Linked DNA regions of Homo sapiens. The protein of the gene in region 1 interacts with the protein of each later gene in a pairwise test. Each region holds a gene or a part of one and is shown in the gene's direction. Other genes may lie near its edges.

What was found.
Region 2: the proteins of DDX6 (region 1) and TRIM37 interact in binary tests that used the Homo sapiens proteins (3 or more experiments, as listed by UniProt).
Region 3: the proteins of DDX6 (region 1) and SPATA6 interact in binary tests that used the Homo sapiens proteins (3 or more experiments, as listed by UniProt).
Region 4: the proteins of DDX6 (region 1) and POU6F2 interact in binary tests that used the Homo sapiens proteins (3 or more experiments, as listed by UniProt).
Region 5: the proteins of DDX6 (region 1) and ZNF24 interact in binary tests that used the Homo sapiens proteins (3 or more experiments, as listed by UniProt).
Region 6: the proteins of DDX6 (region 1) and FXR1 interact in binary tests that used the Homo sapiens proteins (3 or more experiments, as listed by UniProt).
Region 7: the proteins of DDX6 (region 1) and ENTR1 interact in binary tests that used the Homo sapiens proteins (3 or more experiments, as listed by UniProt).

What each region holds. Positions count from the first base shown.
Region 1 is NC_000011.10:118,746,943-118,751,040, reverse strand, and holds the end of DDX6 (probable ATP-dependent RNA helicase DDX6), read left to right. Parts: 3' UTR 1-3,278; downstream 3,279-4,098.
Region 2 is NC_000017.11:59,029,626-59,034,272, reverse strand, and holds part of TRIM37 (E3 ubiquitin-protein ligase TRIM37), read left to right. Parts: intron 1-2,182; coding exon 2,183-2,377; intron 2,378-4,647. UniProt on the Homo sapiens protein: E3 ubiquitin-protein ligase required to prevent centriole reduplication. Probably acts by ubiquitinating positive regulators of centriole reduplication.
Region 3 is NC_000001.11:48,398,421-48,403,067, reverse strand, and holds part of SPATA6 (spermatogenesis-associated protein 6 isoform 1 precursor), read left to right. Parts: intron 1-329; exon of another isoform or gene 330-438; intron 439-3,423; coding exon 3,424-3,717; intron 3,718-4,647. UniProt on the Homo sapiens protein: Required for formation of the sperm connecting piece during spermiogenesis. Sperm connecting piece is essential for linking the developing flagellum to the head during late spermiogenesis.
Region 4 is NC_000007.14:39,340,908-39,345,554, forward strand, and holds part of POU6F2 (POU domain, class 6, transcription factor 2), read left to right. Parts: intron 1-4,647. UniProt on the Homo sapiens protein: Probable transcription factor likely to be involved in early steps in the differentiation of amacrine and ganglion cells. Recognizes and binds to the DNA sequence 5'-ATGCAAAT-3'. Isoform 1 does not bind DNA.
Region 5 is NC_000018.10:35,330,595-35,334,435, reverse strand, and holds the end of ZNF24 (zinc finger protein 24), read left to right. Parts: 3' UTR 1-2,209; downstream 2,210-3,841. UniProt on the Homo sapiens protein: Transcription factor required for myelination of differentiated oligodendrocytes. Required for the conversion of oligodendrocytes from the premyelinating to the myelinating state.
Region 6 is NC_000003.12:180,915,087-180,919,733, forward strand, and holds part of FXR1 (RNA-binding protein FXR1), read left to right. Parts: intron 1-4,647. UniProt on the Homo sapiens protein: mRNA-binding protein that acts as a regulator of mRNAs translation and/or stability, and which is required for various processes, such as neurogenesis, muscle development and spermatogenesis.
Region 7 is NC_000009.12:136,403,372-136,407,614, reverse strand, and holds part of ENTR1 (endosome-associated-trafficking regulator 1), read left to right. Parts: intron 1-53; coding exon 54-470; exon of another isoform or gene 471-669; intron 670-1,636; coding exon 1,637-1,710; exon of another isoform or gene 1,711-1,846; intron 1,847-2,412; coding exon 2,413-2,524; intron 2,525-2,921; coding exon 2,922-2,984; intron 2,985-3,420; coding exon 3,421-3,560; intron 3,561-4,243. UniProt on the Homo sapiens protein: Endosome-associated protein that plays a role in membrane receptor sorting, cytokinesis and ciliogenesis. Involved in the endosome-to-plasma membrane trafficking and recycling of SNX27-retromer-dependent cargo proteins, such as GLUT1.

The sequences.
Region 1 (4,098 bases):
AGGTTGCTGGGATTAAGGGGATTAGAGTGATTATGGGAGCAGCTAAAGATGAGAGGGGCTCAGTTTTACGCAACACTAAATTCTAGAAAGTACTTTGGCCTCGTGCTGTAGAGAGCAGATTTCTATGGTACCCTGTGTTAGTAAAGGGGCCCAGAAATCTGGGATGTACTGTTTGCTGCCACACTGTCTCATCTAGTACCTTTGGAGTAGGTTTACCAGAGAGAGCAAGGAAGCTTCAAAACATTGATAATTCAACATTTATTTTGAGAAGCTCTGATTTTGCTTCTTCCCCCTTTCTAAAAGTTTGAGGAATATTTCAAGCTCTGCAACAGGGGGCAAAGATTAATCTACCTTGCAGTGTAGGAATTCTATTGAGTGGCAGTGTCATTGAGCAGTATATATATAAAGCACAGATTTGCATTTCAGAATATTAGCCAGTACCAGCTTTGGTAATGTTAGCAGTTCTGGAGCTTAATTTTCTGTGGATCATTTCCTGTAGTGTGTAAATGTGTTGCCCTCTGCCCGCTTTGATACATAAACTTTTGCAGGAATGGGCAACCTGAGAGCTGTTAACTTTCATGCTACAGAAAGCTGCTTGCCATTCTCTTGCATTGTGACAAGAATTGTTACCTGTCATTTTGCACTGTAAATTGCTGGCAGATGCTTTACAGTCAATAGTGTTGCTTTAAATTGTGCCCCTCCCAACATGCTTGATGTTTGGCCTGATCTCCAGGCAAAAGGAGTGAGATGAATCAAAACCAGTGAACTTTTTTTTTTAATGTTTTTAATTCCCTTTTAACCCAGTGTACTAGGTCAATCAGGAGGCATCTGGAAAGGGGGGGAAAAAAGCAAAAAACAAAATTAAAAAAAATTGATTTCCATATTTTATTTTTCAAAACCCTAAAATATTACAAAATAAGTCCCGCATATACTTTAATGTTTTAACTCTTTTGGACAAAGGAATCAATTACTTGAAGTTGCTTTTTTGACTCTGCCTACTTCTGAGCAAACTATTTGCGACTCACCCACAATTCCTTGGAGATCAAAATCCTACAGATGCCTCCTGATGGGACATAGCCCTAACTCCTTAACAACTGTAGCAAGAACTGCACGGTACAAACCCAAAAAAGAACAAGCTCATCTATTTGGAACCCAAGCCTCATATTTTCTGTCCAGTCAATGTTGGTTACTAAATAGAAAACCTAATTAAGGAAGTAACTTTTTTCCAGGGAGGGGTGGGAGAGGGAATTTAAAAGGTGTCAACTTTTGACCAAAAAAATTGTGCCCTTGTACCGATGCAGCTCTCTTTCTCCCCCACCTCTTGCGAGATAAGAGGGATCATTCATGTAGAAGAAAAGAGTATAAATGCAATTCTGTATCTCGCTAGAGAACGTGTGGGTGACTAAACAAAAAGTGCAGTCTCCTTCACCAACTTTAGACTGCGTGGTGCCACATGCCTGTGGGTCCCTCTTAAAGCACAGACTTAAAATGGAAAGTATTACTGAAGTATAGCCTCTAATGAGGAGTGGCACTTAAACTATCTGGGACACCACTACTGGACACGGTCTTGTAGAGGCAGCTGTCCAGTTTTGGTGCTTGACTCTTGAATAGGAATTGTTAAATGGAAAGATGCTCTGAGGACTAGGTCAAAGCCTGGTCTTTTTTTTTTTTTTTTTTTTTTTCTTTCTTTTTTGGGCCCTCATAATAAGCATTGTTACTATTGGAAGTTGTTTTCACATTCTTTCCAATATTAAATATGTATTTTTTTAAGTAATGATAATATTTTCCAGTGGCTCATTTGGATGAGAACTACCCTCTATTTTTAATATTAAAACTACATCCAACTCATCATTTAGCCTTTGGTTGTACAGTTGTGTAATGGGCTATGGACTGTTACACACCTTACCACCTCTAGGCCTATGTTTTTTCTTTCCCCATATATTCTGATGGGGATAAATACTGTTTTGCCTCTCCCATAGGAATGGAATACATTTATTCTAAAATGATCTTTCACAGAAGTAAGAGAGAGGGAAACCTAAATATACCTCTAAATTGTTTGAAGTTGGTCCCAGCAGCATAAAATGGGTTGGCCCCAAAGGGTTGGAGGGTGGGCTTGGTTATCAGTATTTGTTTTCAGAATGAGATGGGAGCATCTTTCCTTTGCCACGTGCTTTGTGCTTGATAACATCATGCTTGGTTCAAACGACAACTCAGCACAAAGCCTTGAGTATAAATTGTTGGAATCAAAACATCTCATTCTGATGACGTGGTTTAATTTTTTAATTTTTTTTTTTAATAGGGGTGGGAGGGAGGGTACTTTGCCCCAGAAGGGAGGGTGTCTGCACTAAGGATTTAGAAACACTTTGGAAGCTCATAACCTCATCAGAAACTGCCTTTAGCCACACTCCTGACCTTCTAGATGAGTAACAAAAAAATGAAATAAGTTCTTGGAAATTAAGCCATTTATTTTAATTTGCTATTTTTTTCAATGTTCTAGGTATCTTTAAATTTGTTATTGTGGAATCATTTTCCTGCCAGATACCTTTATCAAAATTATTGGCCTCATGAGAGCTGAAGTAAGTCAGCTTTTTGGTGAACTTTAGTGGACTTCTGTGAGATTGTAGTTGTACTTTGTATCTCTAAATCTAAAGATAGTTTTTTAAAACTCCCAAAGAAAATCTGCTCTCCTTTCTGATCTAAAAACTCATCTTTGGGGTAAAGAGTTAAGTGTCCAAAGGTTGTCACAGTTCATGAGGTCAGAGGGAGCTAGCCTGGCACCTGGACTCTGCCCATCCACAGCTGACAGATTCCAACAGAAGTGTATTTAAATTCTCCAGTAGACAATGCTGGGTAAGGGAGGGGGTAGGGCTGGGTTATTAAGATACAGGCTGCTGTATTTTACATTGGTTGTGTGGGAAGGGGAGCCTGGAGAAAACAAAGTCACTATTCCCTTTTTTGAAACAGGAAAAAAAATTATTTTTTGTTCAGTAAAAATGGTAGAGAATTCCAATGTCCCTAGCCACAAGGGACCAGTTCCACTGAGAAGTGAACAGTGGGAACTCAAAATTTCAGAAACATTGGGGGAAGGGAAAATTGGCTTTCTCTTAATTGGCAGATGTTCCAGTGGGGGGGGGGGGGGCTCTGTTTTTGTTGGGATGTGTTATGTTGTATGTACGCATATATGGACCGGAGTCTGCTGAGTTTATAAGGTTCCAAAAATATGGTAAAATCTTGGTTTTTGTTAATTTATCTCAATAAAAGCCCACTGGAACTCCAAATGTGTGTGTGGTATGTCCTTAGTAGCAGCTGTGTGCATAGGAATCTGAGCATTTTGCTCAGGTAATTCATACTGTGAAACAGACATTTCTCAACCCATCATTCCTGTGAAGCCCAGTTGAATTCAGAGCCCCTTCATCTGTTGTAGATACTGTTCCACCATGCTGTCAGATTTCACAGCCTAAATGGAGAACCAAGATAATCGGTTGGGAAGAGGGGAGATGTGGTCCATAATATGTCCAAATACATCAGTAATTACCACCTCCTACAATTGTTCTCAAATGTAAAGCTGAACATACCCCCAAAACCAAGGCATACTACATCTTAACAGTATGAATGGAATTCATATGCTGAGAACTACAAACCACTGATGAAATAAAAGATTGGGAAATAAAAGTTGGGAAAAGCAGACACTTAAAGTTGAGCACATCACTCTCACTACCTCTCTACCCAAAGAAATGCTTAAGTATAACTAAGAAAATAGAGTCAGTCCCCTGTATCTGGGTTTTACGTCTGCACATTTAGTCAACTGCAGACCAAAAGTGTTAGGCCTACAATGGTTGGGTCTGTACTGAGTATGTACAGATTTTTCTTGTTCTCTGAACTACAGTATAACAACTATCTACGTAGCACTTATTGCACTAGATACGAGTAATCTGGAAATGACAAAGTGTGCAAGATGATGTCCAGAGATTATACGCAAACACTACATCATTTTATATAAGGGACTTGAGCATCTGAGGGTTTGGGTATTTGCAAGGGAGGGTGGAATCCTGGAACCAACCCCCATGGATACCAAGGGGCAAACAACTGCAATACCTA
Region 2 (4,647 bases), on another chromosome or scaffold:
CTTTAACATGGAAGAATGAGCAACTTACATTTTTAAAGGAGAATCAGATATTAGGGCAATAGATTCCATTCACTGGGCTACTGGACTTAACTATACATAAGAACGATCTGAGTAGCTTTTTGGGAAAAAGTCCTGGATCTCACCTCCGTATCCTTTTTTTTTTTTTGAGATGGAGTCTCACTCTGTCAACCAGACTAGAGTGCAGTGGTGTGATCTTGGCTCACTGTAACCTCTGCCTCCCAGGTTCAAGCAATTCTCCTGCCTCAGCCTCCCGAGTAGCTGGGATTACAGGTGCCTGCCACCACACCTGGCTATTCTTTTGTATTTTGGTTTCACCATGTTGGCAAGGCTGGTCTCTAACTCTTGACCTCAGGTGATCTGCACACCTTGGCCTCCCAAAGTGCTGGGATAACAGGCGTGAGCCACTGCACCCAGCTTCTCACCCCAGTATTCTTGTTCAGTGTATCTAGGATGTAATTTTAAAAACTCCTTCAGCTGACTGACATACAACCCAATTTGGGAATTCCTTAGTAAAAGAAAAGAGGTAAAAACAGTTTTCAGCTGGGTGCGGTGGCTCACACCTGTAATCCCAGCACTTTGGGAGGCTGAGGCGGGCGGATCACTAGGTTAGGAGATCCAGACCATCCTAACACGGTGAAACCCCGTATCTACTGAAAATACAGGTGTGGTGGTGCATGCCTGTAGTCCCCACTACGGGAGGCTGAGGCAGGAGAATCGCTTGAACCCAGGAGGCGGAGGTTGCCGTGAGTGGAGATCGGGCCGCTGCACTCCAGCCTGGGCAACAGTGAGACTGTGTCTCAAAACACAACAAAGAACAGTTTTCAATGTGAAGGGGAAATCGTTTTCTGTTATTTAATAGGAATTGCAGTAATACAGAGGCTGGGAAGAAAAACTGTCAGTGAGATAATAATCCTTAGAAGAGGAGGCAGAAGTGGGAGACAGTGAGAACATGAGGATGTGAAAAGCATAAATTATTAATTGGCTTGAAGCTTCTGAACAATGGAACTTTCCTCCTAAGTTATATCCTGCTGGATCTCTCTGAAATACTCATGGGTAGTTGGAACCTGACTTTTTAATATTTTATATTATCTACTTTCCTGCGTGTAGCATTGTTTTAAAATGTTCTATCTCTTTAAAATATATTTAAACAGCTTTATTGAAGAAGGTCAGTTTTAAGCAACATTTCCATATCTGGTATTTGTTATGCATTATACTAGGTGCTAGAGAAAAGTCAGATGCTTTTCTTGGCTTAAAGAGCATAGTCCAATATAGGGGTATAGGCATAATATCTGCCTACAGATGTCTGTAATGTGCATCAGTCATTAACATGACAGTCCAAAAACTTCAAATTGTACCCCATTATTTAATCAAAGTAGAAAAAGTCTACCAAACTGTCATGACCTATACATTTTACTGTCCAGAGACTTGGGGGAGATTTCTATTTTGGTGTCTAATTCTTTGTAATCTGTTATACTATGGGAATTTGTCTTCTTTTATCTAAAACCAGGTGGTCATGGGATATAATCTCCTTCTCCTTACCCTTACCTCTCATCCCCCCAATTGTGCACATCGTACACATTGTCATCTGTTTTTTTCTAGGGCTCAGGATGGGGTTGAGGCTTGCTTCTGAATTCTAAGTACTAATGAGGCCACCACTCAATCACTGTGCTAATGTACAACTGTCTGGTTCCTTCTTTCTTTTTTTTTTTTTTTTTTTTTTGAGACGGAGTCTCGCTCTGTCGCCCAGGCCGGACTGCGGACTGCAGTGGCGCAATCTCGGCTCACTGCAAGCTCCGCTTCCCGGGTTCACGCCATTCTCCTGCCTCAGCCTCCCGAGTAGCTGGGACTACAGGCGCCCGCCACCGCGCCCGGCTAATTTTTTGTATTTTTAGTAGAGACGGGGTTTCACCTTGTTAGCCAGGATGGTCTCGATCTCCTGACCTCATGATCCACCCGCCTCGGCCTCCCAAAGTGCTGGGATTACAGGCGTGAGCCACCGCGCCCGGCCCTGGTTCCTTCTTTCTGCTTCTTATCATGAACCTGAACTCCTAAGAGATAGGTCCATAGACAAGTATTCATATAATGTTAACCAGTTCATTTTTTCATTTAAGTATAGCTAAGTTTGTGCATATATATATCATTTTCTACGCCTCTTTTGCAGGTAGTAGCCATGGTTATGTGGGTTCCAGTAGTAGAATATCAAGAAGAACACATTTATGCTCCGCTGCTACCAGTAGTTTACTAGACATTGATCCATTAATTTTAATACATTTGTTGGACCTTAAGGACCGGAGCAGTATAGAAAATTTGTGGGGCTTACAGCCTCGCCCACCTGCTTCACTTCTGCAGCCCACAGGTAAAATAATAACAATGATAATTTCCTTTTTTTCTGTGGTTCTCTAAAAGAACTCTTGGATTTTCATTTAAGTATTTCAGCTATGTGTGGAACATGGTGTATTTCTGTGTTTTTCATTGTATACCATAAAAATGACATTTATGTCAACCAAATTAGTTTTTAAATTACCGTTCAAAGGTGATTTGTGCAAAAACAAAGTAAAAATGCCTGCAAGAAGGTTTTTTGTGACTTGCTACTCAGATTTTGCCTGACAGTTTGATCCATATGAAATACGGTTATCTTCTTTATGAATGGACTTTTTTTGGTCAGGCTTCATGAATTCCCTTACTTCCAAGTGGAACTATATCTAAATTGAACGTAGAAAAAGGTGACTTACTCATTCTTTGATGTTCAGTAGCTTAAAAATGTATGCCAGTTGGCAGCACTGTTTTCTGTGCAAAGGTTATTTGTTAAATAGAAATTACATTTGTGTTACTATAATAAAATGGAGATTTGTATAGTCAAATATGGGCTTTTTTAAACTCTCGGGGATAGAGTCATTTTGGACAACTAAGTATTTGCCTTTAAAAGCTACATTTTAAAAACCATTTTTGTTGGAATGCTTTCTAAAGTATAGTCAGTATATTCAAAAATATATGCCAAATATTTTTCTACCTTCTTAAACAATAGTATTATATACATCAAATCAATGATTTAGAACTCTGATTTTGATGTAGTTTTAAGGCAAGATAACTCATTTTTCAATCAAAGTCCAAGGCAGAACCTCTGTGTAAATAACAGAGAAATAGAGCTCTTCTACTGGTGTAGGGACATGGAGCCCAGATTATTTAGGCTTCTTCTTTCCTAAGAGCCAGATATACTTCCTGAAAGTCTGGATCCTCAGCTTAAAAGACTATCTTCAGGTTATGAAACAGTTGCCTTTTATGTGTGCGCCAAGTATGCTTTATATAAAGTTTTACTTAAATGTTAAGTGTTGTTTGCAAAGGCCCAGTGAAACAGACAGGTTCTGATTCTGTAGGTAGATATGTAAGTTGGTTTAACCTTTTTGAAGGACAATTTTGTAGTAGTTTAAAAATATCTATATCCTTTAAACTTGTAATTTCACTTTGAGGAGTATATTCCAAAGAGAAAACAAGCAGATGTTTAAAAATATTCAACAATACAGTTATAGCTGAATAAATTACAGTGTAACCATGCAATGGTATATTTTATAGACAAGTAAAATCGTGTTTTTGAAAATAATCAGTATCATTGGGAAAAATGCAAACTAAATAGTAAGATTTCTGTGTAAAACTAGTTTTCTGTGTAAAAACAATACAAATGAGATGATCTGAATTTCAAATTTAGGTGATAAAATGCTGGCAATAATGAGGGCGGGGAAAATAGTAGAAAGAAAAAGCAAGTTTTGGATTTAAACATCTTGAGTTGGGCATAACAGTGTGACATCAAATTAGAAAGGACCAGTAGACAGCTAAAAATTAAGAACTGGGGCTGGGCGCAGTGGCTCACGCCTGTAATCTCAACACTTGGGGAGGCTGAGGCGGGTGGATCACCTGAGGTCAGGAGTTCGAGACCAGCCTAGCCAACATGGTGAAACCCTGTCTCTACTAAAAATACAAAAAATTAGCCGGCCATTGTGGCAGGTGCCTGTAATCCCAGCTACCTGGGAAGCTGAGGCAGGAGAATGGCTTAAACCTGGGAGTCGGAGGTTGCAGTGAGCCGAGATCGTGCCATTGCACTCCAGCCTGGGCAACGAGTGAAACTCCATGAAAAAAAAAAATGAACTGGAATACAGACAGTTATTTTTCTGGAGGTGATACTGGATAATTAAAACCAAGGGTGTGAGATTGCAAAGGAGTTTTAAGAATATTTTAAAAGAAGAGAGCCAGGAACATAATCCTGATGAATATCTGTTTTTACTGAGTGTCAGGAAGATGAGCCAGATAAAGAGCTTTTAGAAAGGAGAAAAAATACTCATGGAAGCCAAATGAAAATACCTTTCAGTGAAGGGATGTTAATAAAAGCTAGTGTGCAGAAATATATGACTTTCTTTTTATTGAAAAGGCTTGCTTGGGTCATTTTTTGTTTGATTGATTGTTTGTTTGTTTTTGAGACAGAGTCTCACTCTGTTGCCCAGGCTGGAGTGCTCTACAATTTTTTGTAGAGACAGGTTTCACCATGTTGGCCAGGTTTGTCTCAAAACTCCTGAGCTCAAGTGATCCACCTGCCTCGGCCTCCCAAAGTGTGCTGGGATTATAGGCGTGAGCCAC
Region 3 (4,647 bases), on another chromosome or scaffold:
AGTAGTTGAGACTACAGGTACATGCCACAATACGCGGCTAACTTTTGTATTTTTTTGAGATAGAATTTGCCATGTTGCCCAGGCTGGTCTCGAACTCTGGAGCTCAAGCAATCTGCCCACCTCAGCCTCCCAAAATTCTGGGATTACAGGTGTGCACTTATCTGCCTGGCCTAGTCTGACTTATTACTGAGTCACCAGGGTGGCTTACTTCTTTGTCCACAGGTTATCTAATAATGTCCAGATATCATTCATGTGCAGTTGCATTGTGATAGGGTAACAGTGACCTATCTGTGATGAAGAGCCAATAATATGTAAAGCCCAGAGGGCTCAAAGGGCAGGACTGGGCTTATCGTGGAAGGAGTGGATTGTTCATTTACTGCATTATCAGTATTCAAGTAAATTTGCTGAAGATGATAACTGTGACTTAAGCCAAGAAAGGTAAAATATAGAATTATTGAGGGGAACATTCTTATTTTATTTAGAAAGATATTTAATAATTCAGAGTCAGGCTGTAGTTATTTATCTTTTAGATGCAAGCTGAAACACAGCTTTTAGAGCTCTAAAAACCTATGCTTGCCAAATGCAGAGCTATGTTATTGACTTGTTTTAGAGATGTGCACTGTGCACATTGTAAATGGTTAGATATGCTTTGCCTGGACTCAGACAGTTTTTTTTTCTTCACGCTGGAGTATGTTCTTCCAATAGATGGATAGAGAAGTCTTTTTTTTCTTTTTAACTTTTTGTCTGAAATATAGCATACACATAGAAAAGTACATACATTCTCAGGGTACAGCTTGGTGAAAGCCATTTCTAAATGTAAAACCATTACCCATTCATAGTTTAATTGTACTTATGAACTAACATTTCCCTCTGTAAACTTTTAACAAGAGTCTTCCATTTTATTTTTATTTTTATTTTTACTTTTTGACTTGGGATCTTTATTGAACAGAGATATGAGAGAAAAGGCATTGGTGTCAGTATTTAAGGAAATACATTTTCTTTAAATATTCTTTCTAGAAACAGACAGATCTGGGTTCGAGTTCCTCATAAGGCTGCTGTAAAGATTAGGGAATATATGCAATATGCCTAGCATGTAACATTATTAAAATGTTTTTACCTATTGCAAAGTGGAATTCATTATTAAATAGTTAAATATCAGTAGTAACTTTATGAATATAAATTTGTTAATCTGCTGTATCACATAGCTTTGGTTGTATTACAGACCTCATTAACTTAGTGACTTAAAACAGCAAGTGTTTCTCACAGTTCTGTGGATCTGCTGGTTGATTTCTTTAGTCTAGAATGGTTGGCTAGGGATGAATGGTTTAGGATGGCTTTACTCACATGTTGAACAGTGGCAGATGTTTTGCCCAGGGAAGGATCTTAAATTTCTAGTGATGAGCTTCATTTCAGCTGGGATGAGATAGTCCCATCATCTATCAGGCTAAGAATTCCAGCTCATTCATGTGATGGCAGGAAGGTTTTAGGAATAAGAGAGGATAAGCACTTTTGAAGTGTCTCTCCTTGTGCTGCATGTGCTATTTTCCTGTTGTCCAAAGCAAGTCACATGGTCAGTCCATTTTATAAATGGTATAACACAGTCACTTTTTAAAAGTTTTACTAGGCATGAACAGGATCCATTAAGGAATAAGTAGGGTTAGACAGCATGCATTTGTAGTAGATAGTATGTAATTTATAACTTTCTCTAGTAGTATGCAGTATTAAAAGCTTTAATAAAGATGAGGTTAATTAAGGTTTGATATAATCAGAGGTATATATATAAGAAAGAACTTTACAGCATTGCTGAAATGGATGATTATGAGTTTAGTTGGGTCTGGAGGTAAGAGATATTAAAAATGTGTAAAGAACTTGGGGGAAGAGTTCTAGGGACTGAGGAGATGAGAAGGGCAAGTAACAGATTCAGTGAGTCAAGAAGTAGGTTGAGGAAAAGAGGTTTTGGTCAGCAAGGGATTTTCAGAATTGGAATGCAAGGGATCTGCATATTTATTAAATCCAAGATGGAGTAGAATTAGATAATTAAAACTGAAAGACAGAAACTCATGATTCCAAGGTCTTAGAAAGATTCATTGCTTGAATGTTTTAGTAAACTCAAAGATCATTTCTAGTGCTGACATTCTTTGCTTCTGTAAGTCTGTGATGTCACAGAGATGGGTGAAATGGATATGGTAGAAAAATTCTGAATTACTTTTTGAAATCATTGAACAAGGTGGAGAAGGTCCAGAAGCATACCATGAACTACAGAAGAAGGAAAGATGGAGTAATCTGATGCAACTGGTCTGTATGAAATGCATAGACCATTGCCCTAGCTGAAACTCACTTTTCCAATTAGGAAAATTAATTTTCTTTTCTGTGTATCCACTTAAAAAATTTGACTCTTCTTCATCCTATTCACATTTGTATTTTATTCACTTAGTTACCCTTAGCAAGTCAAGAGAGGTGTTGAGGAAATAGAGCTGGAGGTAGGATTGGTGGCTTTTAAAAGTGATTAAAGTTAGGAAGACATTTAAAAATTCTCCGCAGTCCATTTTCTTGAATTGAAAAGCTTCTTATAACTCTGGATAAAGTAGGAAGAAATATTATATTACTTGCTTGTAATCCAACTATTAAGGCCTTTATAAGGCAGAGATTATTTGAATAAGATGTTATTCTAATAATAAAAAAGTTAGAATTATTAAATTTTAGCCTCAAAACTTTTAGACTGCTAACCAGTTTTATTAGATAAAATGTTACTAAGTTTATAATGCTTTTTATATTCCTAATTTTATAAAAATATGGGACCAGAATTAAGATGGTATGTTTATCTGTCATTGTGAAGTTACAGCTCGGAAGGGAGCTTAAAAGTGTGTATTACAATCCAAATAACACATTTCATTAAAATATGTATAGAGTTCTTTATATTTTTGTGTTGTACAGATATATATATAATTATAGCAGAAGGGATGAAACTTATTTTTATAGTTTTATCTTTAAAGATTTTGTAATCAACTAATCTGGCATGTATTTTTAACATTACTAAACATAGTTCTCTTATATAGCCAATTACACGAATATTTAAATATATATGTAACCAATGTTTGCACTTTTTTAGTATACTGAAAAATAATTTTTTTGACTTTGTTTCTTTAATTTTTCAAGTGATTAAGTATCGGGCTTTAATTTTTATAAAGTCCTTGTTGGACTTAAGGAAGTTTGAGACAGTGTACTTTAATAACTACTGCAGAAAGAGTTATCTAGGAGAATGTGGATTTGACTTATCCCAGGATCAGCACAGATAGGAAGGACTGATCTAGTTGGCTTTGATAGATTTTGCGTCTTATTTAAATTACTTTTTAATTTTTTCCCCACCAACAGGAATTTTAAAAATCCCCTTTGACCAAGTTAATTTTTATTTTTTATGTTTAGGATAAATTTATTTACCATTTGGCTCCAGTTGAAAAATCACATGGCAGACTGCAAAACAGAACATCAAGATCACAAAAGAAAAAATCCAAGTCACCTGAGAGAAGTAAATACTGTATAAATGCAAAAAACTACGAACAGCCTACAATTTCTTCAAAATCACACTCTCCATCTCCCTACACAAAAAGACGCATGTGTGAGCTATCTGAAGACACCAGGCGGCGGCTGGCCCATTTAAATCTGGGACCCTATGAGTTCAAAAAAGAAACAGATAAACCTCCATTTGTGATTAGACATGTATGTGTTCTCTTAAGCATTTCTATTTGAAACTGATCAGCTTTTTTCCCAAAAAAACTGTTATTCTGAAATATCTTTCAACTTCTAGCTTATATTAATAATACTTTTCTCTTCTGACTGCTACCCTAGCAGTCTAAGATGGGAAATTAATTTAGAATGAAAGAACTTGCTTTTTTTCAGTCTTCAGACCTGACAGAGATCAAGCTGTGTTATGAATGCCATGTTAAATCCTCTCAGTACCGGTTTCCTTTCTTATACAATAGATAGCATAATAACGCTACCAATTGAACTTGGTTGTAATTGACATTAGTACTAAAATGGCAGAGTAGGGCTTTAAAAGAGAACCAAATATTCTTTATGAAAAGGAAGACCCTCCTTTTTTAAATTATAAAAATTAAAATGGAAAGTAAGTTTCCTTTTAAATTACATCCCTTGGGTAAACTTTGTATGATGGATCTTCAAAGCAAATTATTGTTTGATGGTTATGGGAAGGCCTTTGAAAATGAAAAAAGTTCATTTAAGGGTAACCTAGTTCTAGTCTCTGTACTGAACTGTGCTTTTGATATAGTTGAAATTTAGAGTCTTGTGTTTATATGATTATCAAGTAGACTTTGGCTAAATTTAAGGGTTTATAATCAGAATGTTTAGGAAAGGACTCCCTCAGAATCTTCATAGTTTCCTGAATTTCTATGAAGTATTTTTACCTTAAAAGCAATTCTTTACTGAAAGCTTTCAGACTAATAAAAATATGGATTAATGTTATATGTACATATATAATAATACTAAACCTCAAGATTTAAGTGCTGATAGAAGCAAAATAACTTTTTGGGATATCTATAAAAATATTTCTGACTAATGTCTTTAATTCATTTTTTCTAAATTGTAAAATGAATTCATCCAACATGTAAATATGCCCCTTTGGTGGTCTAA
Region 4 (4,647 bases), on another chromosome or scaffold:
TGCACAATGACATTTTTCCCTGTGAGATTTCAGACAATCTCGTGTATTTGTAGTACTGTGACAAAGTTAAACAGAGTGAGCAGCCTGTGGACCTGTTTCAAGTGCCATCTCATCCCCTTGCCATAGTGGTGGGTATAAACCTCAGTCAGTCCGGCTCTCCCCAGCCTGAGAATGACAGTAGCGATGGTATCCTTGGCTCCTAAATAGAAAAGTATACAAAATAAAGACAGGTTGGTACACGGACAGAAAGGCAGGTGGATTAGAGACTTGGTATTTTAGAACTTAGTTTGTTGTCCCATAGCTTTGTCTCTTCCAATTTGGATTCTCAGTGGTGTGGCCCAAAGCATTCCTAGAAATGAACACATTTGGGAGAGATGAGTCATTGTGTTTTTCTGGGCTCTTGGGCCAGGGCTACTTTCAATTTGAACATTTTCATGAGTGGAGTTTCAAGATGTATTTATACAATTCTTACGATGGTGAGACAACGTAACACCTTTGACCTAGGACTAAAATGAACATGGTCCAAAAACGTCTTCATTGTCCACTTGACACCTACTGAAAGAGCAGGTGTCATCAAATTTACAGAAGGCATGATTACAGCAACCTTAATGTTGGCAGCATTTGGGATTCAACTTTATTATTCCAAAAAATTAATTTAATGCTTTTTAAGAACACTTACATTAGATGTACCTATATACCATCTAATTTCTCTATTCCAGGCACCAAAATAGGTAAAATTACCAAAGAAAAATATTGCCCTTCCTTGAGGAGTGAAATTACTTAGGTGTGTCCCCAGTTGTCCGATATAGTCCAGTATTCCTTCCTGTTAGGTGAAAGTTTTGAGCTCTGTGGACCTCAGCCTTCCCTGAACACTGTCAGTGTTTTATAAATTTCTGTTGGCCAGTGAGATCCCAGTGAAGACAAGCCCTGTTGAATGACTGTTGACAGGACTTTAGATGAAGTGACCACGCAGCCTCATGAAAATAAACTTAGGGGAATTTCCGAAAGTTCTCCTAACAGTTTCTCGTGGAAATCCCAGGGCTGTTTGTTTTGTTTTGGTTTTGCAACAAATGAAGGCTCAGAGCTACATTTCTTTCTTTGTAACACTGAGAGAATATTCTAATTTTTCATTTTTGAAGTTTTAACTTATAAACTTAATAAATATGTTTAGAGTACATTTAAATATAGAGGAGCTGTTACTCTAACTTCTGTGGATCTAACAGATGACCACCAAATGAGTGACTTGCTACAAATTTTTTTTAAAACATTACTGAGAAGATGTTAAACAAATCTGTGTCGGTAGGCATAAAAGGACTTTTTTCCTTTACTACAGGCATGTATAAAGGAAATAGAGAATATTTTGGTTTAAAAAAAATTTTTACACTAGCTGCAGGCTTTTTGAGTTTGTGGAACATGGAATGTTTGAACTTTTTAAAAAGAAAACTGTTTAAAAGGAATTGCAAAGATATTTAACTCTCCAAACTAATGATCTTTATAAAGTGTTTTTGTTTGAAGATTATTAAGGGAATAAAGATCAACTAAATTCATGTATGATAGCCTAAATTTTATTTTACAACCCTTTATTTTCATGTGGGCTTTATCTTTTTACATTATTCAAAAATCTGCTGGAGAGATATTAGTTTAGAACTATGCAATGTAGATTACCAGGGAAAGCCAGTCAATTAGGTTTTTTGCTTTAAAAACAAAACTTTGGAGGACAACAATTATTTCTAAAACTGTGCAGATGCTCCCATATCTTTAGAAAAAAATAAATGTAAGTAGGTTGTGTGTTATATTTGGGTGAGGTCATTTCCTGAGATGAAAAAAAATTAATAGTGTTGGTAGGTAGTAACACTCTAAACAAAAATTATCCAAATACCTCGTATCAGGCTTTTCTGCAATATTGCAGTGTAATTTTATTTTACTCTTTTACTGAATTCTGTGAAAAGGATTACATTTACAAAACCAAGTTGTTTTAAGATAGATAGGAGTCTAAAGTATTATCCTTTCAGAGACGCACAGGTAGGGGGATCACTTTGTTTATTAATTTTGATCACTCAGCATTATAGGAGGTCTGGTGGTCTAAAGCAGACTCTAGAAGCTGCCCCTGGAGATCTGTCTATAGATTCTCCATTGAGACTCAGGACCCACCCACCCATGGCTTCGTTCTTGCCCAGGAGGCTTGAGGAGAGAAGTTCTAGACAGGAAATGCAAGGGCAGAGGTCTTCAGGGCCTAGCAGTCCCTGTAAATAAGTAAAGTAATCTTGGTTGTAGAACCCAAAATCAAATTTATAAAAACAGTGTGTGGGACAAACAAGATGCACTGTGAGCTGAATTTAGTCCTTGGGTGCCAGGATGGAGAGCAGTCCATACTCCTTATTTTTGCTCAAACCCACAGTCCACAGGCTGTGCCTGAATCTAAAACTAAAAATATAGACTGTGTTTGATAGAAGCAGAAACATAAATGGAAGCAATCTTTTGGGGCAAAAAACATGATCTAGGTAAAAAAAAAAAAAAAATTCAATACGTAATTTTAATCTGGATAGAGACCCCATAAGCATAAGAATGGTGAAATAAAAGCCTCCTTTCTATGACCTTTAAGAAGAATTTTCTTGAAAAGAAAACTCCTTGGGAGTTTTTATTTGCACTGGTAAAATTTCAGACATCTTATAAAAGCCCTATTGTGCACATATTCCCTCTTGAGTGGTCTGGAGATATGCTGGGCATGGTTGGAGCCCAGTCATGGTGTAGGTGGAAGAGGGTAACCGGAGGGCTTGAGTCCCCCTTCTAGTTCTGACCCTGCCTCCAACTAACTCATAACTTTGGATAGGTCACTTTAGCTCTCTGGACTTCATTTCCCTCATCCGTGTGGTCTGAGGTCTTTTTCAGGCCTATGAATCTATAATCTCAATGTTAGTAGGCCTCTGGAATTTTATTGGCTATTGAAAACTTGATGGTCCTGAAGATTCTCTGAGTATTCTTCAAGGTCAGGTTAATTTCTTCCCACTCAGCTGGGTGGCAGAGTGAAAAGAGAGTGGAGGACAAACATAAGTGGGATAATGATAGCAGAAGCAGATTTTATCTTAGCCAGAGAGTCCAAATTAAAGTCAAGTTTTTATCCTCAGAGAGTCACTGCTATAAGCTCTGGTCCCAGATTGCTTTTCCACACCTATACATTAGAGAAGCTTAAGAAACCAAATGCTGCATTTAACCTTGGCCTCCCACGTACCATCTTGCATGGCAGGACGCAGGATAATCTTTTCCTTTTCTTGTTCTATTGCACATTTTAATAAATAACAGAGGGAGAGAGAGATCAGTAGGAATTGGACAGTGAAAACTATCTGTGCTTATATGAGGAATGAGGGGCACGGTCACCTCCTCGGAGGTGAAGTTGCTTGAGAGCGTGAAATGTATTCTCAACCATGTGCATTTGCTAATGGAAAGGTCTAGTTACCACTCAGGCACAGCAGAGTAAAACTGCATCGGAATCCCACCTCTGTTGCGCAGTGGGCATTGCCTTCTGGTCTTCCCATTTGAGATATTTTCCCACTGGCAAACTTAGTACTAAGTTCCAAAGTGCATACATAATGGGAGAAGGTGGTACATTATCACTTTTTAAAATAAAGAGCCCAAAGCCTTGGGAAGGAGCTAGACCTACGGGACTTTCAAGTTCTCTAAAGCAAATGGTCTCCAATCATGGGTCTGCCCTATGGAAAAGACCCAGTGTCCTAGGCCAAACCCCCTCCCCCCCCAGCAATTAGTCTTAATCGGTTTACCACAATATTACTCAAGGCTCTGTGGGACTAGGTTTGTTTTTTCATCTATAAAAGGGAGGGGGTAAAATTAAATACTTTCTAGAACTCCTTCAGTTCCATTGGAGTTTTATGTTACAAACCCCTAAAACTGTGTAGAGTTGGGTGACTCTGTGGGTGTATTCATATAACTCCTTTGTGTGGCTACTGTAAATATAGAACTCAGACATCTCTCTACCTACACAGGGCTAAATCACTACGCAGAATTCTCCTAGCCAGGACTGAGATGATGGTGAGGCTTGGAAGCACTCATCTCAGATGCAGAATTTAAGGGTGTACTCAAAAATTCAGATAATGTTTGAATGAAATATTTTCAAAAATCAAAATGAACGCCAAAAGTCTATGAACAACAAAATTTCAAATTTTTAAATGCAGGATCAGTAACAGTATTGAGCCATATTGGAGTCTGAGGCAAAAGAAAAAAATCAGTCATATGAACATTTAGTGATCATGAATTTTTGGCACTCATTCTTAAAATATTGTAGTAAGGTCTTATTCATCTTGATTACTACGTTTCTGGACACACCTTTAAATTTGGTTCCTGAAATGAGTGCCTCATTCATCTCACCCTCATCCCTCTCAGCTTTGCTACTGGCTGTCTAAATGATTTAGTTAGCAAAAATCCGCCAAAGTCAATGACATTCTGTCCATTGTAAATTTCGGCCAGGTCTTTGATCTCACTTTCTAGTTGAACTTGAACATTGCACCAAATTTTGCACAGTAGAAAAACAAATGCATGTTGGATAACAAATTGGGGCAAGGAAGGGGCTAGAAATCCATCTTCTTCATTGCACAGATCTAATAAAGCAATTATTTTTGATGGAACTGAAATGTT
Region 5 (3,841 bases), on another chromosome or scaffold:
ATAATCTGCATGCTAGGCATTGGCTTAGACACCGTACCTATCTCACTTAGATTTGTGGACTAGGAAAGCAAGATTCAGAGATCATGTGACTTGCATGTGGCCTAGAGATAAAATTCAAATCTGGTTCTGTAGACTCCAGGGACATATTCACCATGCCATGGGTGGTGGCTATTAAACCTTGATAAATTTGTGTTTATGGTTAACAAATGTGAAAGCTATTAAACATTGCTGGTTTGAATTTTTTACAGTGCAGAAATGTAAAATGAAAAAGGATATTTCCTTTCACAGTGTTACCGAGAAGTCATGATAATTTCGTTTGTTCTTCCAGATTTAGGCATATACTTATTTAATCAATAATGTGTTAACAGCTGACACCTGTGGTTGCTGTGACAGGCACTATTTGAAGTGCTTTATCATGGATTAACTCTTAATCCTCAGCTACCGTATAAAGTAGGACATAACCCCATTTCACATGCACTACACTGAGACTTGCCTCCTCTCCCCCCACATTGAAGATGTTCTTTTTTCATAACTATATACTATTCCATTGCATGAATATTCTGTAATTTATTTAATCCCCTATGGATTGATAATTAGGTTCATTATAGATAGAAGTGTAATTAACATTCCTGTACATGTATTTTGCTACTTGTGTGGGTATTTCTGTAGGATGAATAACTAGAAATTTATTGGATCAGGTTTCACATTTGCAGTTTTGAAAACTACTACCAAAAAGATTTCACCAATTTACAACTCCATCATTAGTAAGAATGCCTGTTTGCCTATAGTCTGCCAACCCTGAATCCTTAAAAATTTTTGCCAATCTGGTAGGCAAAATTTCTTTCTTTTCTTTGAATATTAATGAGGAGGAACATCTTTTCATGTTTCTTGGCCATTTGCATTTCCTATTATGAATTGCTTTTGCCCATTTTCCTTTTTTTAATTATGAAAGTCTAATGACTACCTTCTCATTGTATAAAAAACACAGTTCTTTGAATAGAGAGACCCTTTTCTCCAATGCTACCAATCACATTCCACTTACCACAGTTTAACATACATCCTCTAGTCACCTTTCCGTACGAATATACATACACATAAAAACACTTTTTACATAAATAGGATCTCATATTCTGTAGCTTTTTAAAATTTTGGTCTCAAAAAAAGATAACAGGTCTTTAAATTTCTTTAATGGTTGAATATGATTAAATACTATGAAAATGCCATTATTTATTCCCTTAATTTTTTTCCTCTCGCTATTACATTGCCAAAGTAAACATCCTATTCAGATGTCTTTGTGCATGTGTGTGAATATTTCTTTAGTCTGGAGTCCAGTAAGGTGGATTTTTGGATCAAAGGGTTTGTTCTCTGTCCACCTTCAGTCTTCCCAAAGGCCTTCATAACTGTATTTTCACCAAGTGTATGGAGAATGTTCATTTCCCCATATAACCATACCTACACTTGATAGTTTTTATCTGTTGGGCGAAAAAGAACCTTTTCTTATTTTGCATTTCCCTGATTATAAAAAAAAATGGTGAGATTGGGGTTATTTTCATGTTTATTGGCCATTTATAGTTTACTGTGGATTGTTTGTATCCCTTACCTGCTTTCTATTGGGTTATGTGTGGATATATTGTTTTTATTTGTTCAGCATCTCCTTCCCCATCTTCTGGTAACACAACCTTTATTTATTTGTGGGGAACCTATTCCCTGTGGCTTAGGTGAGCATGTGACCAGGCCTGGCCTCCTGAGTCCCACAGCTTCCTAGCCACAGTGATAAAAGAATGGGTATATAACTTAAGCCAGGCTAAGGAAAGCCCTTAACAGAACTTCTGCTGGAACTACTGGAAAGAAGGCTTTATGGAGATCCCAGGAACCAAGGACCATGTAAGCCTGAATTTGTGCCATGTGGAGAGAGTCTGTCTGAGGAGAAACTCGGATGCTAGCAGAAATGGAAAGAGAACTAAGTTCTGATGTCATTTTTCTGGAGGCCCTAGATCCAGCTGTGCCTAAAGCCTGCCCTACCTCCGGACTTTAAAGTTTTGTGAGCCAATAAAGTCCCTTTCTTGTTTAAGATAATTGAATTGAGTTTCTGTTCTGATTAATATAGGTTATTTGTATTTTCTTATTGATTTGTAGAAAACCTTTGTAATTTTAAATTCTAGACTTTATGCACTATATAAGTTAATAAAATTAGCATGGCCTTCCATGATTTGGCCTGTGTCAACTTTTGCCATTTGTTACTCCATTCTCCCTATAACACACACCCCACACACATACACTTTACATTCCAATAGTAACAACATTGATGTTGGGAATGTGGATGAACAGCTTTTTACACAATTGCCTCTTTGGCAGTTCTCTTCTTATTCTTCCTCTAGACTCATTAACCTGGGACTTTAAGGGTTACACTGCTGAGAGCTGTACCCATCTCCTACCATTGTTCTTGGGGGATTCCCCTCAAGCATTCCCTGTATACAACCCTTGGAGCCCTTCCAATGACCTCCATCCCAACTCCATGGTTCTCTGGCTCTTTGTTTCATTCTCAGGCCTGTGGACTCAAGACGTGAATGAGCACACACAGACCTGAGCAGCCTCACCCTGTGGGCTCTTTTCTATGGCCAGAAATGTAGCAGCGCTCTATGTCACCTGGCACCTCTATTAATCACATCTCCTAAGATGGAGTTTTCAAAGAGATGTCTTTCAAAATTGAGGAAAACATTTTGCAAGCTTTTATTCAACACATTTAAATGCCTACTCTGGGTCAGGCACTGTTATGGGATTTACATCTGTTGCTTGCGTGTGTGAAAAACTACACGTGGCAGTGGAAAACCAAAAGTAAATGAGAAACAGTTTTTTAAGAAAGCATATTGTATGTCATATGATGAGAAGTGGTTAGGGAGAAAATAGGAAAGGGATACAAAATGTCAAGAAGGAAAGATAGTGCAATTTAGATAGGCTGGCCAGGGAAGGTTTTCACTGAGAAAGTGACATTGGAGAAAAGATAGTATAAGGAAGCAAGCCATGAGACTGGAGAGTGTTCCAGGCATGAAAACACCAACTGCAAAGCAAGCTGATGTAAGAGCAATGCCTCATTTGTGCAAGAAACCAAAGAGGCCCGTACGGCTAGAGCAGAATGAACATGGGGGGAATTAGGTGAGGCCAAAGACAAATGTGGTGAGGGTGGCAGGGAGAAGCTGGATCATGGAGGACCTGGTTAGCCATTGATAGAACTATAACTTTTTCTTTGTAATGAGAGACCATTAGAGGTTTTAAGCAAATGAGTAATGTGACAAGGTGCTGAGAACAGCTGAGCAAAACAAAATCTCCATCTAGTTTATCTAAATTCTTAAAATATTTCTTTACATATTTTCTTATGAAGGTAATATAATAGGAAAAGTTTAGAAATAAAAATCACCCAAAAAGTCATGCGAATCCATAATCCTAATAACATCCCAGTAACATTTTTTATTCTCTATACACCTATATAAATGTTCTATCTATATACCTCTCCCCATCTATATCACACCATTATTCACAACAAATACATATTTAGGAAAAAAAAGTGTGTCTATATGTCTATATACGGCTTCCTTCTTTCCTCTGAACTTTAGATCAACTGTCTGCTTCTGCCTAAGGCTAACCTCTCCACTGGATCCAAGCTGTCTTCTCACACCTCGGAAAGACATACTCCAATAGTCCTCACCTTTCCCACATTTCAGTTTTTCCTGTCTTCTGAAATTCTCTAATTAACATAAAAATATGCTGTTTTTATCACACAAAAACCTTCAGGCCAAGATGGAGTACAGGGATCAGATCTAACCTGCCTGAATAAATAAAATAT
Region 6 (4,647 bases), on another chromosome or scaffold:
CAGTATATTTTTATCCTATTAAACTGCTGACTTGAAAACCATTGGCTTATTGCACAGAAGTTTATTGCTTTTTATTCATTAGAATGTAAAAGTTAATGTTAATTTACATACAGTAAAATAAGCCTTTTTTGGTGTACGGTTATGAATCTTGATAAATGCTGACAATTATCAAGATTAACTGTCACTTTAACTGTGGTGGTGTCAGCATTTATCAAGATTCATAGCCCCCAAATTTCCGTCATGCCCTTTTCAGTCAACCATTCCTCAACCCCAGCTTCTAGAGTGTTTTCTGTCCCCATAGTTTTTCTTATTCAGAACGTTACGTATATAGAATCGTACACTATATTGTGTAGTGTTTTGAGTCCGGCTTCCATTTAGCGTAGAAGCAATTTAATTTTAATTAGTTTTTTTCCAATTTAGAAGATAATACATGGTCACTGAGGTAATTTTGGAACTCAGCAAAAACTAGAAGTTGCCTTGAGATGAGAGCTGTTAACATTTTAGTGTATTTCTTTGGTTTTTTTTGGTGGTTTTTCAATGTACAGGTGATCTGAATTTCCCTTTTTTCCCCTCCTCTTACCCCGTATAGGCAGAAGACACACATTTGGCCGTAAGTGTGAATTGCCATTGATGAGTTTCAAAGTCAGTTATCATGCCTTGAGGCAGTACTCTGTAGACTTTGATTAAAGTTTTTGTAGTAGAACTGAAACTTCATTTCACAAATTAATTGGAACCAGTGAAACGCTGAAGATCTGAATATTTTACCTAAAATTAGGGTAGCCTTTAAAAAATAGTATGTACACAAATGGTGGCATGCTAAATACATTGTTCTGCATTTAACAGTGGCTCTATAGTTAGAGATATTAGAAACTTGATTTGTGCATGTTCGTAGCCCTATAAATCTGCGGGGATGAGAGAGAATGGGAAGATGTTAATTAAGCATTTGTTGGTGGGCTATGCTGTTATATAAAATAACATTATAGGCTTTGTACTTTTGTACTTCTCATACCTAAAGTAGCATCTTAGGTTTTATACTACTGGACATTTAAGGTGTCTTGAAAAAGAAAGTTTTAATGAGGTAGAATGTATATTCTATAAAACAACCTTTTTTAAGTGTACAGTTGAATGACAGTGTATTTACAGAGTTGTGTAACCACCGCCACAGTCTTCCTTCAGAACGTTCCATTACCCCACAGAAACCTCCGGCTCATTTGCATCATTAAAGTGCTTTTTAACTGATGTATAAATATATATTAGTCTTTGTAATAGCATTGCAATTTGTATGGCCTTGGGCTGAGTATAATTTCATTTTATTTTTATTTTTTGAGACAGAATCTTGCTCTTTTGCCCGGGTGGGAGCACAGTGGTGGGAGCGCAGTGGTGCGATCTCGGCTCACTGCAACCTCCACCTCCCAGGTTCAAGTGATTCTCCTGCCTCAGCCTCCCAGGTAGCTGGGACAACAGGCATGTGCTAACATGGCCGGCTAATTTTTGTATTTTTAGTAGAGACGGGGTTTTACTGTGTAGGCCAGGCTGGCCTCGAACTCCTGACGTCAAATGATCGCCCTCCTCGGCCTCCCAAAGTGCTGGGATTACAGGTGTGAGCCACCACGCCCGACCATGAGTATAATTTTAAATAGAAGTTGGAAGTAAGTCACTCAGTTTCTGGCTCATAGGAAAGTTTCCATGATGTTCGAAGGGAACCTGTAAGCTCTGAGATTTCAGTCACTTTCTGCAGAAGGTAGAGTTACATTTTTTTGTTTTCTTGAGACGGAGTCTTGCTCTGTCACCAGGCTGGAGTGCAGTGGTGCAATCTTGGCTGGCTGCAACCTCTGACTCAGTGGTTCAAGCGATTCTCCTGCCTCAGCCTCCTGAGTAGCTGGTATTTCAGGGACGCACCACCACGCCCAGCTAATTTTTTGTATTTTTAGTAGAGACGGAGTTTCACCATGTTGGCCAGGATGTTCTCGATCTCCAGGATGGCCTCCATCTGTCCGCCTCGGCGTCCCAAGGTGCTGGGAATACAGGCGTGAGCCACCGCGCCTGGCCAGAGTTAATTACTTTTAGAGCTGTCTGCTTCCACCGTGTAACTGTCTACAAAACAAATCTCAAAGTACTATATTTCTATAATTCCCTGTTTAGCTTGATTTAATATTAAGTGGAATTTGAGCGTAATCTAAATTATGCATAGATATATTAATAATGATGACCAATAGAATTATAGTAAAAAGTTGCGTTCAGAGGGTATGCTGACTTTTCAAGGTTAGTACAGAATCTTGTTAGTTGGTTTCATTGTGGAGATTTGTAATTGAAAAAACGATAATTGTCTTAATATTAGGCCACCCTGTTAATTTAAAAATACATAGTTCCAGATAATTTAAAATGGTTGTTTTGCATATTTAAAAAGATAATTTTCATTAAAATGCTAAGTAATGAAGATTTAACTGGATGTCAAAATAAATGATCACAACAGCTTTTATTTTCATTCACAGATAGTTGCAAAACGTGGAGGGGAAGGAAGGCTGGGATTTTCTACTCTATCTTGCTGATGGTGATCACAGTTATTAAAAAGTCAACTTAGGCCGGGCGCCGTGGCTCATGCCTGTAATCCCAGCACTTTGTGGGGCTGAGGTGCGTGGATCACGAGGTCAGGAGTTCGAGACCAGCCTGGCCAACATAGAGAAACCCCGTCTCTACTAAAAATACAAAAATTAGCCAGGTGTGGTGGCACGCGCCTGTAGTCCCAGCTACTTGGGAAGCTGAGGTGGGAGAATCGCTTGAACCGGGGAGGCAGAGGTTGCAGTGAGCCGAGATCATGCCATTGCACTCCAGCCTGGGTGACAGAGTGAGACTCTGTCTCCAAAAAAAAAAAAAAAAAAAAAAGTCAATTTAAATGCATATATTTCTTGTAAAGTTTTGTGTTTTGTATTAGAAGAGCAACACATAATTACGAAAAATATGAAAGCAGAAAAGCACATCTTACCTATCTAGAGAGATACTGTCAAGGCCCTGGCTTTAAATACTTCCAGAAAACATTATTTTTCCGTATTTTTACTTTTATGTACCTGTTATTTTCTATGTCAGATATTTGTGTGCCTTCTGTAAGATAATAGTTTAAGATGAGAGCCTGTTCTTTACTAGATTATGTATTAAGCTTCTATATGTATTTCCTGATTTTCTTTTCCCAAGAACTCTGTGAGGTTGGTTTTATTTTTTTAATTTTTATTTTTTAGTAGAGATGGGGTCTTGCTATTTAGATCAGGCTGGTCTCAAACTCCTGGTCTCAAGCAATACTCCCATCTGGGCCTCCCAGAGTGCTGGGATTACAGGCATGAACCACTGAGTCTGGCCAGCATTAGGGATTTTTCAAAGTAACTTTTAGGATAGTGAGCTTACATTTTCATTAGGAGGAAAAGGGCAGATACTTTGCTGGATTATCACTCTGGATAAGTTCTCTATCACAGTGTTTAAGGTTGTCAAATTAGCTTTTTTGTAGTGGGAAGAGCAATATGCATTCATTCCATGATTGACCCCTAATTCTTGTAATAGTTTTTAACTGGCAGGATCATCCAGGTAAACACCTTGGTTTTTTCATATGCAGTATGAAGCAGTTGTATTTCCTTTAACCTATTTATAAGTTGTGAAATCTTTGCTAGTTTCTGTTGATGGCAGTCCCATCTACCTCTAGCAACTGTAACTAATTTTCATTGAGTACCCAGACTACTTACCAGACTTTGTAGGTGCCTTACTCGAATTTCCCATTTAATCCTTTCAACCACAGTGAAGTAGATAACTCCACTATTTGAGAATACTGAGGCTAAGTGAATCCAGGTCTGTAAAGTTAGATGCTGATTCAAGATTCAGACTCTAAAGTTTGACACCACAGAACCAATTTCTTTAACCATTATGGTGCAATATTTTTTGAAGTACAAATGTTTTGCCACATTATTACTAATTTTGAATTGTTACTAATATGAGGAGAATTATGAGGAATAAATTGGGAGGTTCCCAGAGAAATGATTTGAGCTATGCCTTTGCTTTAGACAAATCTGCTTTCTAATATAGTAGCCACCAGCCATGGAGCTGAAATGTACTAGTCTGAATTGAGACATGCTTTAAATGTAAAATACAAATTGGGTTTCAAAGCCTTAGAATTAAAAAAAAATGTGAAACACCTAAATTTTATTTTTTTTTTATTTTTGTTTTTTTTTTTTTTGAGCCAGAGTCTTGCTCTGTTGCCCAGGCTGGAGTGCAGTGGCACTATCTCGGGTCATTGCAACTTCCGCCTCCTGGGTTCACGTGATTCTCATGCCTGAGCCACCCGAGTAGCTGGGATTATAGCTGTGTGCCTCCACGCCCAGGCAATTTTTGTATTTTTAGTAGAGACAGGGTTTCACCATGTTGGCCGGCTGGTTTCGAACTCCTAACCTCAAATGTTCCACCTGGCTCAGCCTCCCAAAGTGCTGGGATTACAGGCGTGAGCCACTGCGCCGGGCCAATAATTTTTTACATTGATTACATGTTGGATAATATTTTAGGTATATTAGGTTAAATAATATTGAAATTAATATTATCTATTTCTTTTCATGCATTTTGTTTTATTTTGAGATGGAGTCTTGCTCTGTTGCCCAGACTGGAGTGCAGTGG
Region 7 (4,243 bases), on another chromosome or scaffold:
GCTCCGAGTCAGAAGCATGGCCTCCATTGTTTTTTTTTTTTTTTTTTTTTTAGGAAGCCTCGAGGCATTCCCTGGGACTTGACCACAACTCCCCACCCTCCCAAACCGGCGGGTATGGCCTGGAGTATCAGCAGCCATTTTTCGAGGATCCGACAGGGGCTGGTGACCTCCTGGATGAGGAGGAGGATGAGGACACCGGATGGAGTGGGGCCTACCTGCCGTCCGCCATCGAGCAGACTCACCCCGAGAGGGTCCCTGCCGGCACGTCGCCCTGCAGCACATACCTTTCCTTTTTCTCCACCCCGTCGGAGCTGGCAGGGCCTGAGTCTCTGCCCTCGTGGGCGTTGAGTGACACTGATTCTCGCGTGTCTCCGGCCTCTCCGGCAGGGAGTCCTAGCGCAGACTTTGCGGTTCATGGAGAGTCTCTGGGAGACAGGCACCTGCGGACGCTGCAGATAAGTTACGACGCAGTAAGTGAGCCTCACGGCGCCCTCTGGCACAGCGCCTGTCCGAGCGGCTTCTCCCGGGGAGAACCTGGAGCCATCCTACCTCTTGGGTGGCCTGGTTTGATTTCCAGGACAAGGCGATTTGCGTGACAGCCTGCTATCCACTTTCCCTTTGACTTTGCTTCTGGTTACACGTGGGAATAGAACCGGCTAAAGAGGACTGGTGAGCTAGAAGCTGTGAATTGGATGCAGTTGGGCACTTACAGGGCTGTACCCTCAGTAAAGGCAGGCTGCAGTCGCCAGCTTGCTAAGTATTCCAAGAGGAGGAAAATTTTTAAAAAATTATAATCACCTAAAAGGTTATAAGCTCTGAATAAAAAAAAAAATTTTTTAGCTGGGCGCCGTGGCTCACGCCTGTAATCTCAGCACTTTGGGAGGCCGAGGTGGGTGGATCACCTGAGGTCAGCAGTTTGAGACCAGCCTGGCCAACATGGTGAAACCCTGTCTCTACTGAAAATACAAAAATTAGCTGGGCGTGGCGGCAGGCGCCTGTAGTCCCAGCTACTTGGGAGGCTGAGGCAGGAGAATCGCTTGAACCCGGGAGGCGGAGGTTGCGGTGAGCCGAGGTCACGCCACTGTACTCCAGCCTAGGCGACGGGCGAAACTCTGTTTCAAAAAAAAGAAAAATTATTTTCTTCCTGAGACAGTGTCTCACTCTGTTGCTCATGCTGGAGTGGAGTGGCACGATCTCGGCTCACTGCAACCTCCGCCTCCCGAGTTCAAGTGATTCTCCTGCTTCAGCCACCCGAGTAGTTAGGACTACAGGTGCCCGCCACCACTGCTGGCTAATTTTTGTATTTTTAGTAGAGACGGGGGTTTCACCGTGTTGGCCAGGCTGGTCTCAAACTCCTGACCTTGTGATCCGCCCACCTCGGCCTCCCAAAGTGCTGGGATTACAGGCGCGAGCCACTGCCCCCGGCCTCTGAGTAAAATTAACTGGCATCTGTGACCACAGGTCTTTGAAAAGTGCCTGCCTCCGTCTGTGGTCTCCCTCTGTAGTGGCTGCAGGTGGATGCTGCACTGACCCAGCATCTCTGCTTATCAGGAGGCTCTGGAGCCACACCGCAGAAGCACACGCCCTTTTGAGCCAGACATGCTGACTTTCTAATAAGGATGTTCTCTCTCCACAGCTGAAAGATGAAAATTCTAAGCTGAGAAGAAAGCTGAATGAGGTTCAGAGCTTCTCTGAAGCTCAAACAGAAATGTATGTAAGCTTTTAGTTAGGAATGCAATCCACAACATCTAATACACAGGGAAATCCGTTTTTAAATGATAATGAAGTAATCAGAGTCAAACCAGATCTGGGTTTTATTGTATATAAATGTTCAGCATCAAACACATTTCTGTGTTCTGCCTAAAAGTTTATTTTGAGACAGTCTTGCCGTGTCACCCAGGCTCGGGTGCAGTGGCGCAATCACGGCTCACTGCAGCCTTGACCTCCTTGGCTCCAGCAATCCTCCCATCTCAGCCTCCTGAGTAGCTGGGACCACAGGCGTTTGCCACTGCACCTGGCTAATTTTTAAATCTTATTTTTGTAGAGACAGGGTCTCACTATGTTGCCCAGGCTTGTCTCAAACTCCTCGGCTCAAGGAATCCTCCTGCCTCAGGCTCCTAAAGTGTTGGGATTATAGGCATGAGCCACGGCGCCTGGCCAAGGTTTATTTTAAACTTTAGGCAAAAAGCCACCAAACACCTTGTTGGAGCAGCAGTGCTGTGAGAGCCGCTCCCTGCACGCCTGCCTGGTGGCTACAGGTCCAGGCCTGAGGCTGCCGCTGCCTCCCCTCTGTGCCTGAGACCCATTCCATCACAGGCTCTTAGCGGGTTTTATCTGGCTCATGAGGTATCTTTTTGTAGTCCTCTTAAAAGTAGCCACAGAAATTAACAACTCGGGTTTTTCTTTAACAAGGGTGAGGACGCTTGAGCGGAAGTTAGAAGCAAAAATGATCAAGGAGGAAAGCGACTACCACGACCTGGAGTCGGTGGTTCAGCAGGTGGAGCAGAACCTGGAGCTGATGACCGTATGGGTTTCTTCTCTGAATCGGACGAGCTGGGTGGGGCAGGAGCGCTCCTGAGAAAGTGCTGTTGTCCTCAGCAGCCGGTGCAGCCTGCCCTTGGGAGCGGGGCCATGTGGCTCTCTGGGACTGGTGTTCTTTGACGTCGCTGTCTCGCTGTGCCTGGGGATAGCTGGCCCACGAGGGCATCCGTGGGGAGTGGGGGGCCAGAGCACAGACACTGCACGATGAGCCCTTCCCAGGGGTGGTCTGAGAGTGGAGGCGGGACTGGGAGGGGCACAGGGGCTGTGAAGGGCCACAGCCAGGTTGGGTGCCCTCCTGCTCCCTGGGTTGGGGCCCGTGTCCGGTATGAATGTGAGGACATCAGTGATGCTTTTTGTGGTTTTTCTTTTTTGGGTAACAGAAACGGGCTGTAAAGGCAGAAAACCACGTCGTGAAACTAAAACAGGAAATCAGTTTGCTCCAGGTAATTAAAGGAAGGGACTTCAGTGTTTTTCTTTGATTTGTGGAGTCACATAATGAATTCAGTAAGAAAGAGGCGAAAGACTCTGCTGGGGTTTCCCCTGAGCCCAAGCAGAGAAAGGACTTCAAATGAGGACAGCAGCCGCTTCCTGTCAGGGCGTGAAGCAGAGGGAGGCCCTGGAGCTCTGTTGGGAGTTTGGGGTCTGGCACGGGGCATCCACTTGTAGGAGTCCCTATTGCCATAGAGCTAGGTGCTGAGCATATACTGGAGTGAAGGGGAAGCCATTAGGCCCCCAGTCCCAGAGGCGAGCCCCCAGTTAGGCCAGAGCATGCATCTTGAGTGCCAGGCCCCCACGGGTAAGCCCTCGCCTCGCCAGGTGGTGACTTTCAGCCGGGTTGCCTCGGAGCTGCTCTGTCCTTAGCCGTAACCGTCCCCCCAGGCGCAGGTCTCCAACTTCCAGCGAGAGAATGAAGCCCTGCGGTGCGGCCAGGGTGCCAGCCTGACCGTGGTGAAGCAGAACGCCGACGTGGCCCTGCAGAACCTCCGGGTGGTCATGAACAGTGCACAGGCTTCCATCAAGTGAGTGCCTGGGAGGCACCGGGAAGCCTGGCGGGGAAAGGGGTGAGATTGGAGTGGTCGTCAGTGATCCTGGGTGGGGGCCCAGGCTGATGGCACCGTGGCTGGAGGACCAGGGAGCTGCAGGGAGGGACGCGTGCTCAGTGGTCCTGTTAGCTCTCTGGGTCACTGTGTGGACAGACCACAGGCTTTCTAACCTGCCTCGCAGTGTCTGATCCCACCTGGGAGGTGCAGACAGCCACAGCACCCTGCACTGAACCTCAGCCCCACCCCATGTGGGCGCTGAAGCTCTGAATAAAGGAAATAGTGGGGGTTTCCCTCCTGCTGAAAAAGCCACTTCCCAGAAGGCCCTTACTGCTGTGCCTGGCTGGGGACACGCCAGCCACCATGACTGTGACAGTGGTGAGTGTCTGCCACCCATTGGGCTGAGCTCTGCAGGGCGGTGTTGGCCCCCAGAGCACTCCCTGTGAACAAGGGAGCCGTCTCCTGTGAAGTCAGGTGTGGGTCTCCTCCAAGAGGAGCTAGGAGTGGAAAACCTGTGGTTCTCCCCCAGCCCCTCCCTTTCTCCCAGGAACCCTGTCCCTTTCTTCCCCCGGCAAACCCCACCCCTTGCTCCCAGGAACCCTGTCCCTTTCTTCCCCGGCAAACCCCACCCCTTGCTCCCTGGGACCCTGTCCCTTTCTCCC